Homo sapiens: one gene and its partners. The protein of the gene in region 1 purifies or fractionates together with the protein of each later gene. This does not show direct contact. Each region holds a gene or a part of one and is shown in the gene's direction. Other genes may lie near its edges.

Region 1 (5,367 bases):
AGGGGCGGCTTGGTCATGGGCTCCTCTTTCCTCAGTGGGCTGAGGGGTTAGGTCCTTTGAGGAGCGCTGAGGAGACTGTGGTAAGGGGAAGCGCCCTCCATCCCAGAGGCTTTCCTGGAACAAGTGGGTTGGAAGGACCAGGTGTTTGGGAGCTGCTGGGAGCAGGTGCAGAAGCCAAGGCATTCCCAGATGGGGGAGACTGGGGGTGGCAAGGTGGCTTTTCAGGGATCCAGCCTGCATGCCACCTATGCAGCCATGCTCCGGGGGCGACATCCGCCTGTGTCCTTCAGCTCTTCCTCAGCCTCCACCCGCCACCCGGGAGTCAGTGCCTGGACTGGAGCTCTAGCTGGAGGGCGTCTAGGAAAGGTCCCAAGGGGTGCGCAGGATGACCTGGTGTCTCTCCAGAGTCACCCCTGCTAAAATACTATGTGGCCAGCCCCAAGTCAGTTGCAGGTCATGGTGTTGGGATCTTCCACAAGGCCTCCTGGAGTCGCGCTGGGGGAGGGTGGGGTACTCAGTCTGTCGCAGAGCCCCAGGCCATCCGTCGCCAAGAGGAGCACTCCAGCGCTTCCCTCCTAATGCGTTCTTATCTTGCCGGGAGGAGAACTGGGCCAGCCTTACTCACCCAATCTATGCATGAGGCTTCCCCAACGCGCCAGAAGCCCTTCCTTCGCAGAGGTGGGCTTGCCCCGGCCTGTCCCCGTTCCTCTACCATGGTTAGGGCACAGTGGCCGAGGACTCCGTCCCAGCGCGGCTGAGCCGGAAAGCGATGGCGGCCGGAGGGGTCGGGAGGTTGGTTAGCGCTTTACGGAGCTGCGTGTTCCGTTTCCAAGGGCTGTAGAGCCTTCTACTGGGAGCCACCGTGGATCAGGCCAGGGGTTCGTCAGCTGCATTTGCCGGATCGCATCGCAGCACGCGCACCCACACGCGCACACGCCCTACTCGCAGGAGACTAAGCGCCCCGAAAAGGCGCGTCCCCGGGCGGGTCGCAGCCGGTCCAGGAAAGGGGACAGGGCGCAAGGGCCATTTGGGGAAGGAAAAAGGGGGCGAACCATGACCTTGACCTCATAGAAGGCCGAGGACGTGAAGAGGCTGGCAGATAAGTTGGCGAGGCTCGCAGCGAAAACCCAAAGCAGCCGAGCTCGGAGAGCGCCGTCTCAGCGGGCGAGGGCGTAGCCCGGGGAATGCACGGAGGTCCGTCTAGTCAGTCGGGGCGCGCTTCCTGGAGGAGGAGGAGAAGGACTTGCGGCCGGAGCTACCGGGATAAATGCAGGAGGCGGGGCAGCCAGCGGGCGTGGCCCTGCGGAGGTCCCCGGTCGAAAGGAGGAGACAGGGGCCGGCCGCGTACTTAAAGCGGACGCGGGGGAAGCCCTCCCGGGGTCTGCCTCAGTCGCACAGCTCGGTGGGCTCGTGGCGCAGTCGAACGTTTTCCCAGAAGCTCCCCGGCCCCGTCCAGCCCCTAAACTCGCGACGCTGGGTCTGCTGGGTCCGGCGCGCACAGGCTCGAAGGAGCCGGGTCTACTCGGTTTGGCCCAGCAGCTGCGGGCGGCGGGGAGCAGCCCAGCCCGGCTGGAGCAGCCTCCCGCGGGTGAGGGCGCGGGGCGGGCGGCCGGGTCCCAGCCCTCGGCAGCTCTGCCTACCGCGCCCGGGCGCGGCGTCTGAGCGGCATTAGGACCCAGGCGCGGCGTGGGGGTGTGTCGCCGGCTCCCGCCGCCGGCCCGCCCGAGTCGCCGAGTTTGGGGTCCAGAAGCGCCGGAGCGCCGCGTGAGGAGCCCGGCCGTGAGTGCGCGAGTGTGCCATGGCCGCGGCCACCAGGCGCGTGTTCCATCTGCAGCCGTGCGGTGGGTGCCTGAACCCGGGGGCGCGGCGGGAAGGCCGCCCGGGTCTCCGCCACCGTCTCCCGTCGGGGACCCCGGGGAGAACGCGGATGCCGTCTGCCTGCGCGGGCCGGGGCCGGTGGGCGAGAGGGCTGCGGGATTCCCAGCCGCGGGGAGGAGGGCGCGGGTGCGGGAGGCCCGGGCGCGGCTTCGCGGCCACCGCGCGCTTGGTTTCATTAGGGCTCTGCTGTCGCCGTCTTGAATTTCTTACCAGGTTTGAACAGCTGATGCAGCGGGTCGAGGGCGGGGAGCTCGAAAGTGGGCAGGGCGGAGCTGTGGGGCTCCCAGCGCCCCGAGCGCCGAGCTTTTGGGAGCCTGGCGGGCCGCCGCCTCGGAAGGTCTCATTTTACCTTCCGCCCGGGCATCTTCCCGTCCGGCGCCGCGGTGGGAGCCCCGGAACCCCTGGAGTTTTGGGAGTCCCGGGACCCCTGACCGTGCCCTGCGCGGCCGCAGCGGTTTCTCCCTTGCTCTGACACGGGAGGGCCAGCCCTGGGTCCCCGCCAGGACCCAGGTTTGTACGACCCTTTACCTGCACGTGGGCCGCCGGGACGGAAGCGGAGTGTGCACCGGCCCAACCCTCCCAGACCCTCGTCGCCCACGGCCTGGGACGCGCCCCAGCGCCCCCGCCCCCCACTTCAGGATGCAGCCCCGGCTCCCGCCCCGCGCCTGCATTCACATCCTGCGCCCCGACCCCCGGGGTCTCCGAGTCTGGAGGCGCTTTCCTCTCGTGCACGCGGCCCCTCCTGTCGCTTCCTTCCTCCGACAGCGAGGCACAAACAGCCGGGACCATCCGGGGACCGGCCCAGGGAGGGCGCAGCCTCCCCCGACCCATGTGTCCCTCAGATACTCCTCCCACCCCCAATTGTTCTCCCTTTTGGACCAACGGCTCTGGCTTCCAGGCGGCCGGGACGCGGTCCCAGGACTGGAGACCGTTGCCTGTCGGCCCCCGTGTGACCCGGGGCGCGTGACGGGGGTCGGGGGAACTGCGCCTGCAATGGGCGTTTATGGCCCCCAGGACCGGTCTGAGAGTGAGAAGAGGGATGTGCAGAGAGATCCCCCGCCTTGGCATCCGAGGAGAGAGGGGGAGAGGCCCGCTCGGGCCCGGTCCCTTCCTCTCGCTGCAGCGGGGCAGGGTTTTCTCAGGAAAACCTGGATTAGCGAACATGGTACTGGTACTAACTCGGTGGGAAGACATCCCTGGAACGTCTCTCCTCCTCGCCTCTGGCCCGCCTGGGCAGCCCCTAGCAGATGGGCTAAGCAATTGAATTTCTGAGATTAAGGCTGGCTTCCCCTGCTATGGGGCCCCCTCCCGAGCACTGTCCCCTGCTTCCCTTTCTCCCTAGGGTGGCGTGGGTTGCATCCCTCGGAAGAGCGAAGGAATGAGCCAGGTCGGGGGGCGGGGAGACAGGTGCACACAGGAGGTCCAGGGCTTGGTCCATGGGGCTGGTGACCTTTCTGCTTCCCTTGCAGAAAACTCTCCCACCATGTCGCAGAATGGATACTTCGAGGATTCAAGTGAGTACCTCTCGGGGAGTGTGTGTGTGCAGAGAGAGCTTGTCGGGCAAAAGCCTCCAGGGTGCATAGCCTACCCACCAGAGTCCTGTGGCTTTGCTCGCCTATCTGGGCCACTCTAGTGCTGGAATGCTTTTGGCTTCCACTCTTCGGGAAGCTAGACATGGGCGGATCCCCCGTGGACCTGAGAGGGCAGGCTGCCCATTCTCCTGGGCTACTTGGACCAGGTGAACCCTCTGGGATTCTTACCCAAGGTTTTCTGTGACAATGGCCTGTTATCTGACTAGCCTTGGGCCAAGAATTCTGTGTGCCCCTGTCCCTCTGTCCTCACCCAGCCCTGGAGGGAATATCTGTCGTTGTCTCTTTAAAGAAATATAAGGCCTCTGTGCTGCAGTCCCTCGGGCACCTTCCTGCTGTCCCTGCTTGTACCAGTCCAGCTGTCTTCCTCCTCATGTCTCTGGGCTGGCTTCAGGCTGTGTCCTGTGCCTAGCCCCATGAGTGACCTGACCATTCGAGGGTTGTTTGTAGAGCAGTGCGTAGACACAGGGCTGATGTTCCCTTACCCAGAGCCCTCAGGACATGGGGCTCTGTGTGCTAGGCTGCTGGTGGGCAGGTTACGTATGGGGCTGGGACTAGGACTTGGCATTGCAGGAGCCCCCCAGGAACCTGGTAGTGTCAGCTGGGCAGGTCCTTAATCTAGGGGACCTGAGCACTAAGTCTAAGGTAGAGCTGAGGGCATCAGGGGAAGAATGGGGGAAGAACGGGGCTGTGTGAAGGGCAGTGGAGGGGACTAGTGGGTGCTGGTTGAGGGGCAGAGGGGAGGCTGGGACAAGTTCGGGCCAGGGGAACCAGACAGTTTAAACAAGGCAAGCCTGACCCGGGGAGGAAGGAGTTTATCATGAGCTCCAGAACCAAAGCAGTGAGGACGTCTTTTGTTTTGTTTTGTTTTGTTTTGTTTTGTTTTGAGTCTCGCTCTGTCGCCCAGGCTGGAGTGCAGTGGTGTGATCTCGGCTCACTGCAAGCTCTGCCTCCTGGGTTCACACCAGCCTCCTGCCTCAGCCTCCCGAGTAGCTGGGACTACAGGCGCCCGCCACCACACCCGGCTAATTTCTTTTTGTATTTTTAGTAGAGACAGGGTTTCACCATGTTAGCCATTGTTAGCCAGGATGGTCTCGATCTCCTGACCTCGTGATCCGCCTGCCTTGGCCTCCCAAAGGCAAGGATGTCTTTTGACCTAATATTTCTTCTCTGGGCTCTGGAGGTAGTGCAGGCCTGGGCCTGGGAGTCACCAGTCCCTGGGGACTTTGATGCAGGAGGCACTAGGGCTTCCTACCCAGAAGGGGCCCAGGCTAAACTCAGGACACTGGGGGAACAGGGCCTGGGATGTGCCAAGGAAACTGGCGGCGGGAGTAGAAGTGAGTCAGGGTGAGTCACTCCCTGGCAGGTGCAGGCGTGCTGCTGACCCATCCTTGTTTCTGCACAGGTGTCTGTCAGGCATCAGTGGGGTCTGGGCTATAAGGGCCCCTTTCCTGGGAGTACCTACAAGTGAGGAACCTTAGGGGACCCACAAGACAGGAAGGGCTGCCAGTGGCCAGGGGTGAGGCAGGGATCTAGGAGGACTTCCTGGAGGAGGAGGTTCCAAGTGAGTCTTGAAAAAGGCCCTCCAGGGAGGGAAGCCCTCAGCTTGGAGGACAGGACCTTGCATGCCTAGGGTGCTGACCGGATGGCCTGAGGAGCCAGTGGTCAGGGCAGGGGGAGCAGGGCTGGCTCAGGCTGTGATCTGTAGGCTGCAGGGAGCCACTGCAGGGCTCAGGGCAGAGGAATATTTGCATGTTACCAGGAAATCTTCCTGTAGGAAGAGGGGTGTGCTGCTGGCCAGCTGCAGGAATTGAGGACCAAGGGGAGCAGGCTCTCACCTCTGGGGTCCCACATCCCACAGGTGCCATTACACACCCTCACTCTCCATGTGCCCTTACCC
Region 2 (5,221 bases), on another chromosome or scaffold:
CACAAAGAGTTTGTTCTGTCAATGTTATGATCTTTATTGTAACATTAACATGTTAAACATAGGCTGACTTCCTAGAACTAATTTGAAAGGAAAACCCTAACTTTCCACGCCTAAGTAGTTGCTAGTCAGTTGTGTCTAAACTACAAAAGGGAGGGGGTATAATGAGGCATGTCTGATCTCCTGTCCCATCATGGCTGGGGTCCCCTTGGCCAAGAAAGGGATCTATCCAGTCAGTCGACAGACCCCTTACTTAGGATTTTATTTTTAGTTTATATATATATAAATGGCTTCACAACGAATTTCCTGACTTTTAATTTGCCCCTCTGTTCATCCTCCACCCTGTTGCCAGAGAGAACTTTCTAAATCTCAGGATGTCACACTTCTGATTAAAATTGTTCCATGGTTCTCTGGATTTCAGGGTCAAGTTCAGATCCTTTCCTCAGTACACCCCTGCCTGCCTCTCTAGCGCAAATCTTTCACAATCCCCTGACTGGTACCATCATTCTGGTCACACTCAACTAGTCCTCTCGCTGTCCTGTTACTTCTTGCACTTTCTGTTACTCTGTATGGAGTTCCCTTCCCGTTTTAAGGCAGAAGAATATGGTATGGCGGTAGGGAACCTAATGCCCTTTCTCGCTGACTTCCTAGAACTAAATTGAAGGAAAATCCTTACTGTCCACGCTTAAGTGAATAAAGGGCCAGATACTACTCCCTTTGCAAGCCCCAACCTGTTCTGCGCAGATTTGGGAAATTGAAAGTACCTCTGATTGGTTGCTTTTTGTAACCAATCAGACGTTTGCATAGAAGTGTAACTTTGTAACTTCTTCAGCCTCTGATTGGTTGCTTTGCGCAACCATTCAGACTGATTGCGGGCCACCACTTCATTTACATGAAGTGAACTCCAAGTGGCCAATGGGAAACCTCTAGGGGGTATTTGGACCCGAGAAGACTCTGTATCCAGGGCCCTTGAGCTGCTGTCTCACTCTCCCACACTCTGGAGTGTACTTTCATTTTCAACAAATCTCTGCTTTTGTTGCTTTATTCTTTCCTTGCTTTGTGCGTTTTGTCCAATTCTATGTTCAAAACGCCAAGAACTTGGACACCCTACACCAGTAACACTTTCAGCCAACTTTTTGTCGTTCAAGATCAAGGCCCGGACTTACCTTTTCCAGGAAACCTCCCCAGATCCCTTCTGATTTAGGTACCGTCCTCTGTGCTCCCTGTGATTAAATCAGCCTCTACACATATTACACAATCACTATGCTCTGATTTCCGTTTACTTGTTTCTCTTTTGCAATCTGTGTCATATTCCTCTTTTTATCCGCCGTGCCAAGTATGGAGCCTGTCACATAGCAGGCCTCATAAATACTTATTGAAAGAATTAATAATAGACGTAGAACCAACGGGCTTAGTAAGCCCCTGGAGAAAGGAATCAAAGATGTTTCTGAGGCCTCTATATCAGGAAGTGCGGAAATTTCATGGTTTGAGAATGGGCAGGAAAGATCATTTGTGAGCTGTATTTAATGCAAAAGTTGCTCCCCCATCCTGATTTCTTAGCTCACTGGGCCAATCGGCGGAAGGACAGGTGGGGCTCAAATTAGGAGAAAAAAACCACACTTCCCGTCATGCCTCTGGGCACCGCTCCCGTTTCCCCCTCTTTGTCACCGCCTCTTCCCCACGGAAATGAAAGGAGCACTTCCGGGTTCGGCAATAACCTGGAGCCGGCGGCGTAGGTTGGCTCTTTAGGGCTTCACCCCGAAGCTCCACCTTCGCTCCCGTCTTTCTGGAAACACCGCTTTGATCTCGGCGGTGCGGGACAGGTACCTCCCGGCTGCTGCGGGTGCCCTGGATCCAGTCGGCTGCACCAGGCGAGCGAGACCCTTCCCTGGTGGAGGCTCAGAGTTCCGGCAGGGTGCATCCGGCCTGTGTGTGGCGCGAGGCAGGGAAGCCGGTACCCGGGTCCTGGCCCCAGCGCTGACGTTTTCTCTCCCCTTTCTTCTCTCTTCGCGGTTGCGGCGTCGCAGACGCTAGTGTGAGCCCCCATGGCAGATACGACCCCGAACGGCCCCCAAGGGGCGGGCGCTGTGGTAAGTGCGAGGGCAGGGTAGTCTGGCTTGATTTGCAAGAGTTAGGAAGAAGCAGGAAGCGTTGCGAGTCCCGAGGCGTTCCAGAAGCTCAGTGCATTCAGGAATGGGATTAATGAGTTGGGGTGGGGAAGTTGGAGCGGGGAGAGGGGAGGTCCTGAGCGAAGATATGGAGGGAACTACAAGTTTGTTTCTGAAGCGACAATAGGCTGACCTGGAGCTGGTGGCCCCCACCTGTATGCCATGGAAATTGGGCCTTCTTTCCTCTTCTCCCACCTCGGTCTTTTGTTTACCGTAGGCCCCAAGGTTAAAGATGCCGCATGAGATTGTGCCATGACACACATGATCCATGACACACACCACGTGGAGCACACGAGTGCCGGCAAAGAACGTTTCTGCCTAGTTTATACAATCGTATATAGAAATTATGCAAAGGGAGGAGAGCGGTGGTCTTTTTCTTCTTCACTTTGTTCTTTATGAAGAGAAATATCATTATGCTTTTGTAATTTTTTTAAGATGCTGATCTGGAGCTAACAAGTTATTTGTGCCCGGAGCATTGCTGTCCTCTACTTTTTAATCCATAAGTAGTTAAGTATTATTCTGTGTGACCACAATGCAGTTACCACATTTGGGAAATATTACCTAATATAAAATCCATGTGCAAATTTCCATAATTGTCCTTTAAAGCTGCTTTCTCTTCATCTGGGATTCTGTCAAAAAGCATGCATCGATGGGCTGGCGCAGTGGCTCACTCCTGTAAGCCCAGAACTTTGGGAGTCCAAGGCGGGAGGATCGCTTGAGTTCAGGAGTTAGAGACCAGCCTTGGAAACATAGCGAGACCTCATCTCTACTAGAAATCAAAGAAATTAGGCGGGGCGTGGTGGCTCACGCCTGTAATCTCAGCACTTTGGGAGGCCAAGGCGGGTGGATCGCTTGCGCCCGAGAAGTTGAAGCTGCCGTGAGCCAAGATCGCGCCACTGCACTCCAGCCTGGGTGATAGAGCAAAACCTTCTCTCAAAACAAACAAACAAACAAACAAACATAAATTAGCCGGTCGTGGAGGTGCGCTCCTATAGTCCCAGCATAGTCCCAGCTACTCAGGAGGCTGAGGTGGGTTGTGCTTTTGCGCTCCAGCCTGGGGTGACAGAGCGAGACCCTATCTCAGAAAGCATGCATTCAATTTACTGGCCATATCTTGTTTACTGCCTTTTAATCTAGAACAGTTCTGCCCTCTCCTCCCCTTTTTTGTCTTTTAAGATACTGATAGTTTTCAAGAGTCCAGACATGTTTTGCAGCATATATAGGTACATCTAATATGTATATCTATATTATATATCAGGAAGCATTTTACATTGATTTATCCCATCATTGCAGAATTTGTTTGATTATTTGATTAAGGTGGTGTCCACCAGTTTCTCCATTGTAAAGATACCTTTTTTCCTTTCTAATTAAAAAGTGTTCTTTGGCATGATACTGTGACACTGTGTGAATATTGCTCCTCAACAATTTTTCACCCAAAGATCTAGTGATTTTTTTTTTTTTTTGCCTGATGGTTGGACAGTTTACTCTTAAAAAATGTATACCAATAGACTTTCTTAAACTTTTAAAATTGTATAATATACATAAGTGTGTACAAAATGAAACGCATAGCTCAATGATTTATTGCAGAATAAACAACCTGAACAAATAGATTTTAAGGAGAATGTTCTAAAACTAACTTTCAAGCTGTGGTGCCCAGTCATAATATTTGTTGAGAAACTGAGCACAGTAAGCTGGATTCATCCTTCACTTGATTACTGCTAATCATTTCAGTTTATTGGAGTCACAGTACGGTAAGTCTGGATTTAATGATAAATCAAAGTTGTATTTCATATTTCTGAAATTACCTACATGTGGGTTAAAAAGACATAAAATAAAACAGCCTGGAATTTTACAATGTACTTGGATTTTTCCCTCAAATTTTTTATATTTTTTTTTCAAAAGATAATGAAATTAAATTACATAGAGCAGTGTTTTTAGACTTCAGGTAGACCCATTAGTGAGTTGAGAAGTCAGTTTAGTGTAAACACCAGCTATTTTTAAAAAATTAAATAGAAAATGTCAAAATCCATTATATACAGTAGGGTAAATATTTGTGAAACTTTTGTTTATATATCCATGTATATGGATCTCAATGTTAAAATTACGAAGATCCTAGACAAAAAATGTAAAAGCCACTTTTGAATATAAGATACATTTTAATGAGAAAACACATTTTAAGATTCTGCTTTAGTGGTAATAGACATAAGTATTGGGGGGAAAGCAGCAAAGGAAAGATAGAATGGGAAAAAAATGGGGGAAGAAAATGGTATAGGAAAGTTTAATCTAGGACCACCGAAACTAGGGTAAGACTTGTGGGGGAACATGGAGGTGATAAAGAGAGTGGTGTAATCAGAGAGGCAGGTGGCCATTTAATACCTGTCAGCCACATTTTGAGCACCTAGAGTATGCCAGGCCCTTGTGCATGTAGGCAGATTACAAGGCGAATGAGTTTAGTTGTTACTACTATCATGGTTTTATATTTCTTCTTCAAAAGGTTTCTTTAATCCCAACTGGCTTTATGTGATGTTTTACTCAGCTCTGAGACCTACCTATTCGGATTTGAGATTTTTTGCTAAGAATAGGCATATGGATCTCTTGAGAGCAATTAGTTTTTGTTTAATGTTCTTTTAAAATAGATGAAGCCAATATTGCAAGTGTTAAAGGAACACAGACAATTGTAGTTGAATTTCTGTTAAGATTATTTTTTCTAATTAATTAGTCTTTGCATTTTTTTAAAATGTCAGCTGATATTTTTCTATTTATTTCTGTTTAAGTACTTCTTGTGCTTTCCACATGAAAACTATAAGGTGTTTGGACTTCTCATTAAGCATATACATGAAACATGTAATTGCCTTAGAGTTTTCACCTAATGATCTAAAAAAACAAATGGAGGAAGATTAAAATATTTTGAGTAGACATAAAAACCACACAGTCTTGATGCTTAAAAACATGATTTGCAGGCATAGCTTACAGTATTTTTCTTTTTAAATTTAGCAATTCATGATGACCAATAAACTGGACACGGCAATGTGGCTTTCTCGCTTGTTCACAGTTTA
Region 3 (4,780 bases), on another chromosome or scaffold:
TGCCACCAAATTGTTTGAAATGCTTGTTCCCCGGTGCCGTAAAGAAACAGCAGTTGAACATAAATTTAATTTACTCAGCAAGGACATTTTTACTTCCTGCAGAAAGGACACACTTGCCATCAGCTTTGCCACAAGAGTTCACCCAACAAAGGAAACAGGGTCATTTATAACCTGACGCGTCCACCCTATTGCCGTCTCTGGTTTCCATTGACTGGGATGGGACCTCACATTCTGTATCTGTCCCGATTGGCTAGCAACGTACAACTTTTTAAAAGAGGCAAAGGCAGAGGAGAACAAAGGAAGGAAGTAATTTGTGGAATGCTGAGAAAGGTAAAAACACCTTCAAATAAGGAAGAGGAACAGGCTATGACCTAATGCCCGCTTGGACCAGTATAAGCATGCCAGGGCAAATATTTAGGCTAAATTGTGGGAGCTAAGAACCTAAAGTAGTACATTGCTTTCTTTATTACTGCTAGCAGATATTTAATAATGTTAGCACAGGTCTTTGAATAAATTTTGCTTCTAAGAGAAGTTACTATTTATTCCTAATTAGATCGGTAGGAAAGTCTTTGAAGAGGAACCTCTACTTTACAACTAAACATCTAGAGGCTCGGAATGCCTCTTTCTGGGGATGCAGCCCAGCAGGCCCCAGCCTCATTTCCCAGCCCTCACTCAAAATGGAGTCGCTCTGGTTCCAGCGCCTCTGACACTGAGAGGTCATGTCAGGAATGGGGAAACTGAGGCTCAGAGGAGCTATGGCACTGCACAAAGCTACACGGCTCCCTGGTCTTCTGTTTCTGTTGAGTCATGTGAACCAAAAAGTATCGGAGATATGTCTCAGTCAATTTAGAAAGTTTACTTTGCCAAGGATAAGGACTCACCAGTCCTGACAACATGTGCCCAAGGTGGTCGGGGCACAGCTTGCTTTTATACATCTCAGGGAGGCACAATACATCTGTCAGTACATGTAAGATTCACATTGATGCCATCTGGAAGGGGGGCTTTCAGGTCATGGTAGATGTAAAAGTTTTCTGATTGGCAGTTGGTTGAAAGAGCTATTATCAGTAGAAAGGCATGTCTGGGTTAAGATACTGGTTGTGGAGACCTAGGTTTTATTATGCAGATGAAGCCTCCAGGCTGCAGGCTTCAGAGGGAATAGATCATAAATGTTTCTTGTCGGACTTAAGGTCTGTGTTGTTAATGCTGGAGGGCATAACAGGCCTGTCCCACACCCTCTTCTATCATGGCCTGGGCTAGTCTTTCTGGTTAAATGTGGAGGGCCCTGGCCTATTGGAGGAAGTTCATTCAGATGGTTGGGGGTACCTTCCGATGTTATTTTTGGTTTACAGTCAGGAACCCCCTAAAAGGCCTAGATCTCTCTCTGTCCCCAGGTGCTGGACTCTATGTCTTTCATGCATCTAGAGTCCAGAGGCAAAGGCCACCAAGGCTGAGAGCCGGGCACGGAGGCCGAGGAGATGGGGAGCCAGGGTTGCTTTTCTGGGAAAGAGGGAGTGATAAAATCAGGCATGGGCTGGTTGGTGAGGTCCCTGTGGGAGGTGAAGGCTGGGACCCAGAACAGCAGAGACTCTGTCGATGATGTGGAAAGACCGCGGCTGCAGTTTGGGCAGGCTGAGCCAGGGTTGGGTCTTGCATGTTGAGAGGCTGGCCTGCGGTGATGTGGCCAAAGAGGAAGAGCTGGGCTGGGGTGAGTGTTGGTCACATGGTTGAAACTAGGTGGGGAGGGGAGTGGTCCAGGGGAGAGTCCAGGCCCAGCTCTGCTGGGACTTGCCATGGGGGTCACGACTCATCTGCAGGGAAGGTCTGGGCTTTATCTCTGAGCACCTCTGTGTGCTGCTCACCCTGAAGTGGGGGTGGGCCTGTGCCTGGCCTGTCCCCTCATCCTGGGAGCTCCCAATGCCCATCTGCAAGGCTGTGGACCCCTCAGGAGTGGCCTGGAGCCTGGCTCCCATTGCCACATGGTGGCTGTGTGTGTGGAGAGGGTTGATAGTGGAGTGGTCAGGCCCAGGCTGCCCTGGGGGATGAAGTGCCATCCTCTGGGTGCCCTGGAGAAAGAAGAGAACTCAGTGAGCCCTGTCTGGTACTTTCCTGGAGGAGGGCTCCCATGCTGGCCCTCCACCCCTCTGTCCCCTGTCACCCTGAGGCCTCTGGATTTCCTCTCTGCCCTTCCCAACCTGCCAACTTCACGGGTTTCTGGCTGGGTTCTGGGGATGGCCCCTAGGGGAGACGGGCCAGGCACAAGCGGGGCTGTGTCAAGGTGGGTATGCAGGGGTAGCACAAGTGTGCAGAGCCTGGGGAGGCATGGGCAAAGCATGGCAGGCGGCGGGGCAGGGGATCTTGGAAGGTCACGGGCTGGGGAGCAGTGTGGGCAGCGGCCCAGAGGTGGGAAGGCCGTAGCTTAGCTGGGTGTCCCCTTTCTGTCCTCTGCAGGTGGAGCCCCCTGAGCTGCCCGCTGATCTGCAGCACTGGATCTCCTACAACGAGGCCAGCAGCCAGCTGCTCCGCATGGAGAGTGGGCTCAGTGATGTCACCAAGGACCAGTGACCGCCACCTTCACACCGTCTGCCCTGGCCACCATCCTGGGCCTGGGGGCTGCCCACAGATGGGCAGTCTCAGCCATACTCTGTTCCAGCTGGAGTAGCCTCCTGACCAGCCTGGCCCACCCTGCTCCACCCACTGGGCCCCCCCAGTTATTGATACCCCTCTGTGCTGGGCTCCACGCTAGGCAGAAGGAGGAGTGGCATTGGCATCCTGACCCAGCTCTGCCCTCAAGGTGGGGATGGATGGGCAAAGGAGAGTCCTGCCTGGCCCTACGATGAGGCCACTCATGTGGGCCTAGGTAGGGGAGGATGGTGCCTGGAGCAGAGGGACCCACAAGTGCCTCCCGAGCCTAGATCCTGGCTCGGACCACTGCAAGGGCCGAGGCAGGGCCAGACCAGAGCATCCTGGGTACAGGCCTGGGCTCTCCAGGGCCTGGGCCTGATTCAGGTGCAGTGGGCACTCCTGAAGGGTCAGAGCGGCATCTGCCAGGCAGCCCCTCTGGCTTCCGCTGAGGTGGTTGCAGGCCTGGGGCAGAGCCTGGGTGGTCAGAGGCCGGGGCTAGAGGCAGATGGAAGGGAGGCATTTGCTGACAGAGGACGGGGCACCCGGGCTCCCCACTGCAGTCGGCCTTGCCTCCTCCTCCTCCTCTACCTCCAGTCAGGCTGGACGGGAGGGTAGCCTTGTGGCTGAGAGGGGTCAGACTAGGTGGCACAGGGGCTCCTGGAAAGACAGCAGGCTTCCTGCTGGGCGTTCCCTTGTTGGAGGGAATAGAGTGGGGGTGGGACTCTGCAGGGGTGTCCTTGTCCACTCGCACCCCTCGCCGCCCACCAGGGCCATGCTCTGTGACTTGGGCTGATCCCCACCCTTTCTGGGCCTACAGCACCACAGGCCGCTGTACCCCCTTAGAGCTGCCCCTCTCTGGCCTGGCCGGCAGGCGTCTTCTTAACTCCTCTGTCCTCTATATTCAGCATGTTCCTTGTCAGCTGCTGGGCCGGCCCTGCCTTGCGCTAGCAGAGCCTCTCCTGGCAGCTTCTCAGGTCTCCCTAATGGAGACACCAGGCTACTAGGACACTGGCTGGGGCCACCCCCTCCTGCCTAATGCCTCACCTTACAGCTGGGGAAACTGAGGCCTGGAATGGCCCAGAGTCACCAAGGCAAAGTTGGGGCTGGTCCCAGCCTGAGGCTCCAGCTGATGCCCTCAGCTCCCAGAGAGGGGGTGCCCCATCTAGCTGGGTGCAGGGGTCACTGCTTGTCAGCTCAGGGCCCTGTGCCCGCTTGCCTGTTCCCCTACATCTGTGCCTGCACATCCAGAACTGCCTCCTTGCCGCTGCCTCCAGGAAGCCCACCTTGAGCCAGAGTCAAGGGCTGCAGCACTGCCCGATAGAACACGCCCGCCCTCACTGCTGTTCTTGCCTTACAGCCACCATGGGAAAGCTGCAACCTTTCTGTTTTATTTAAAGAAAGCCCAACATTAAAGGGTTTTCATTGCAAGCGTGCTGGGGAGGGCCTTGTTTCTGAGCTACCACCACCACCATCCATGCAGGGGCGGAGGTGGGACCAGGGAAGCTGGGGCACATTCCCAAGATGGGTGTCTGGCATGGGGGGCTATCCAGGTTTGTTGGGCTCCCGTGAACTTAGGGATCAGGCTGGCAGGGCAGGGCTTGTCCTCATCCCATGGGGCATAGGACTGAGGCCAAGAAGGTGCTGTCCAAAGCCCCCTGGGGAGCCAGCCCTTCCTGCTCCGGCCCTCCTGGTTCCCAGCTCTCGAGGCTTGCAGCCCCATCTACAGATGCCAGCGCCAGGTTCCCGGTTTCCCTCCTTCAGGGATTACCCTGGCGGTCATGCCTCAGACTCTGGGTCTGGCCCTCCAGGCTCCCAGAGCCTCGGGCAGGGTGCTGGTAGCCATTGGGGGCAGAGGTCAATGGACTGGTGGGTGGACAGGAGGCAGAGAGAGCATGGGGGCTGTTCTGCAGGCCCTTCAAAAGGGGTGGGGAGAAGTGGGACCCTCCGGGACATAAAGTTGAGTGAGGCGGGGTGTGGCCACGTCCATGCTGTGACCACCTTCCTGGGAGGGTCCAGAAGGCTCTGAGGGCCAGGGAAGGAGTGGGCAGTTGGAAACAGCTATGAAACCGGCATTTAGTGATGGGGCAGTAGGGCTGGGGAGGGGAAGCAAACTTGCTCAGCAAATCTGGGGTCTGTAGCCAGACTGGTTGGCCAGAAG

Evidence for each region.
Region 2: the proteins of SLC4A11 (region 1) and TMEM33 purify together in Homo sapiens (affinity purification with mass spectrometry; one large-scale study listed by BioGRID and IntAct). This does not show direct contact.
Region 3: the proteins of SLC4A11 (region 1) and THEM6 purify together in Homo sapiens (affinity purification with mass spectrometry; one large-scale study listed by BioGRID and IntAct). This does not show direct contact.

What each region holds. Positions count from the first base shown.
Region 1 is NC_000020.11:3,235,569-3,240,935, reverse strand, and holds the start of SLC4A11 (solute carrier family 4 member 11), read left to right. Parts: upstream 1-1,745; 5' UTR 1,746-1,798; coding exon 1,799-1,841; exon of another isoform or gene 1,842-1,956; intron 1,957-2,072; exon of another isoform or gene 2,073-2,091; intron 2,092-2,186; exon of another isoform or gene 2,187-2,388; intron 2,389-2,746; exon of another isoform or gene 2,747-2,871; coding exon of another isoform or gene 2,872-3,043; exon of another isoform or gene 3,044-3,256; coding exon of another isoform or gene 3,257-3,347; coding exon 3,348-3,392; intron 3,393-5,367. UniProt on the Homo sapiens protein: Multifunctional transporter with an impact in cell morphology and differentiation. In the presence of borate B(OH)4(-), acts as a voltage-dependent electrogenic Na(+)-coupled B(OH)4(-) cotransporter controlling boron homeostasis.
Region 2 is NC_000004.12:41,933,443-41,938,663, forward strand, and holds the start of TMEM33 (transmembrane protein 33), read left to right. Parts: upstream 1-1,986; 5' UTR 1,987-2,042; coding exon 2,043-2,087; intron 2,088-5,159; coding exon 5,160-5,221. UniProt on the Homo sapiens protein: Acts as a regulator of the tubular endoplasmic reticulum (ER) network by modulating intracellular calcium homeostasis. Mechanistically, stimulates PKD2 calcium-dependent activity. Suppresses the RTN3/4-induced formation of the ER tubules.
Region 3 is NC_000008.11:142,732,878-142,737,657, forward strand, and holds the end of THEM6 (protein THEM6), read left to right. Parts: intron 1-2,448; coding exon 2,449-2,562; 3' UTR 2,563-4,050; downstream 4,051-4,780.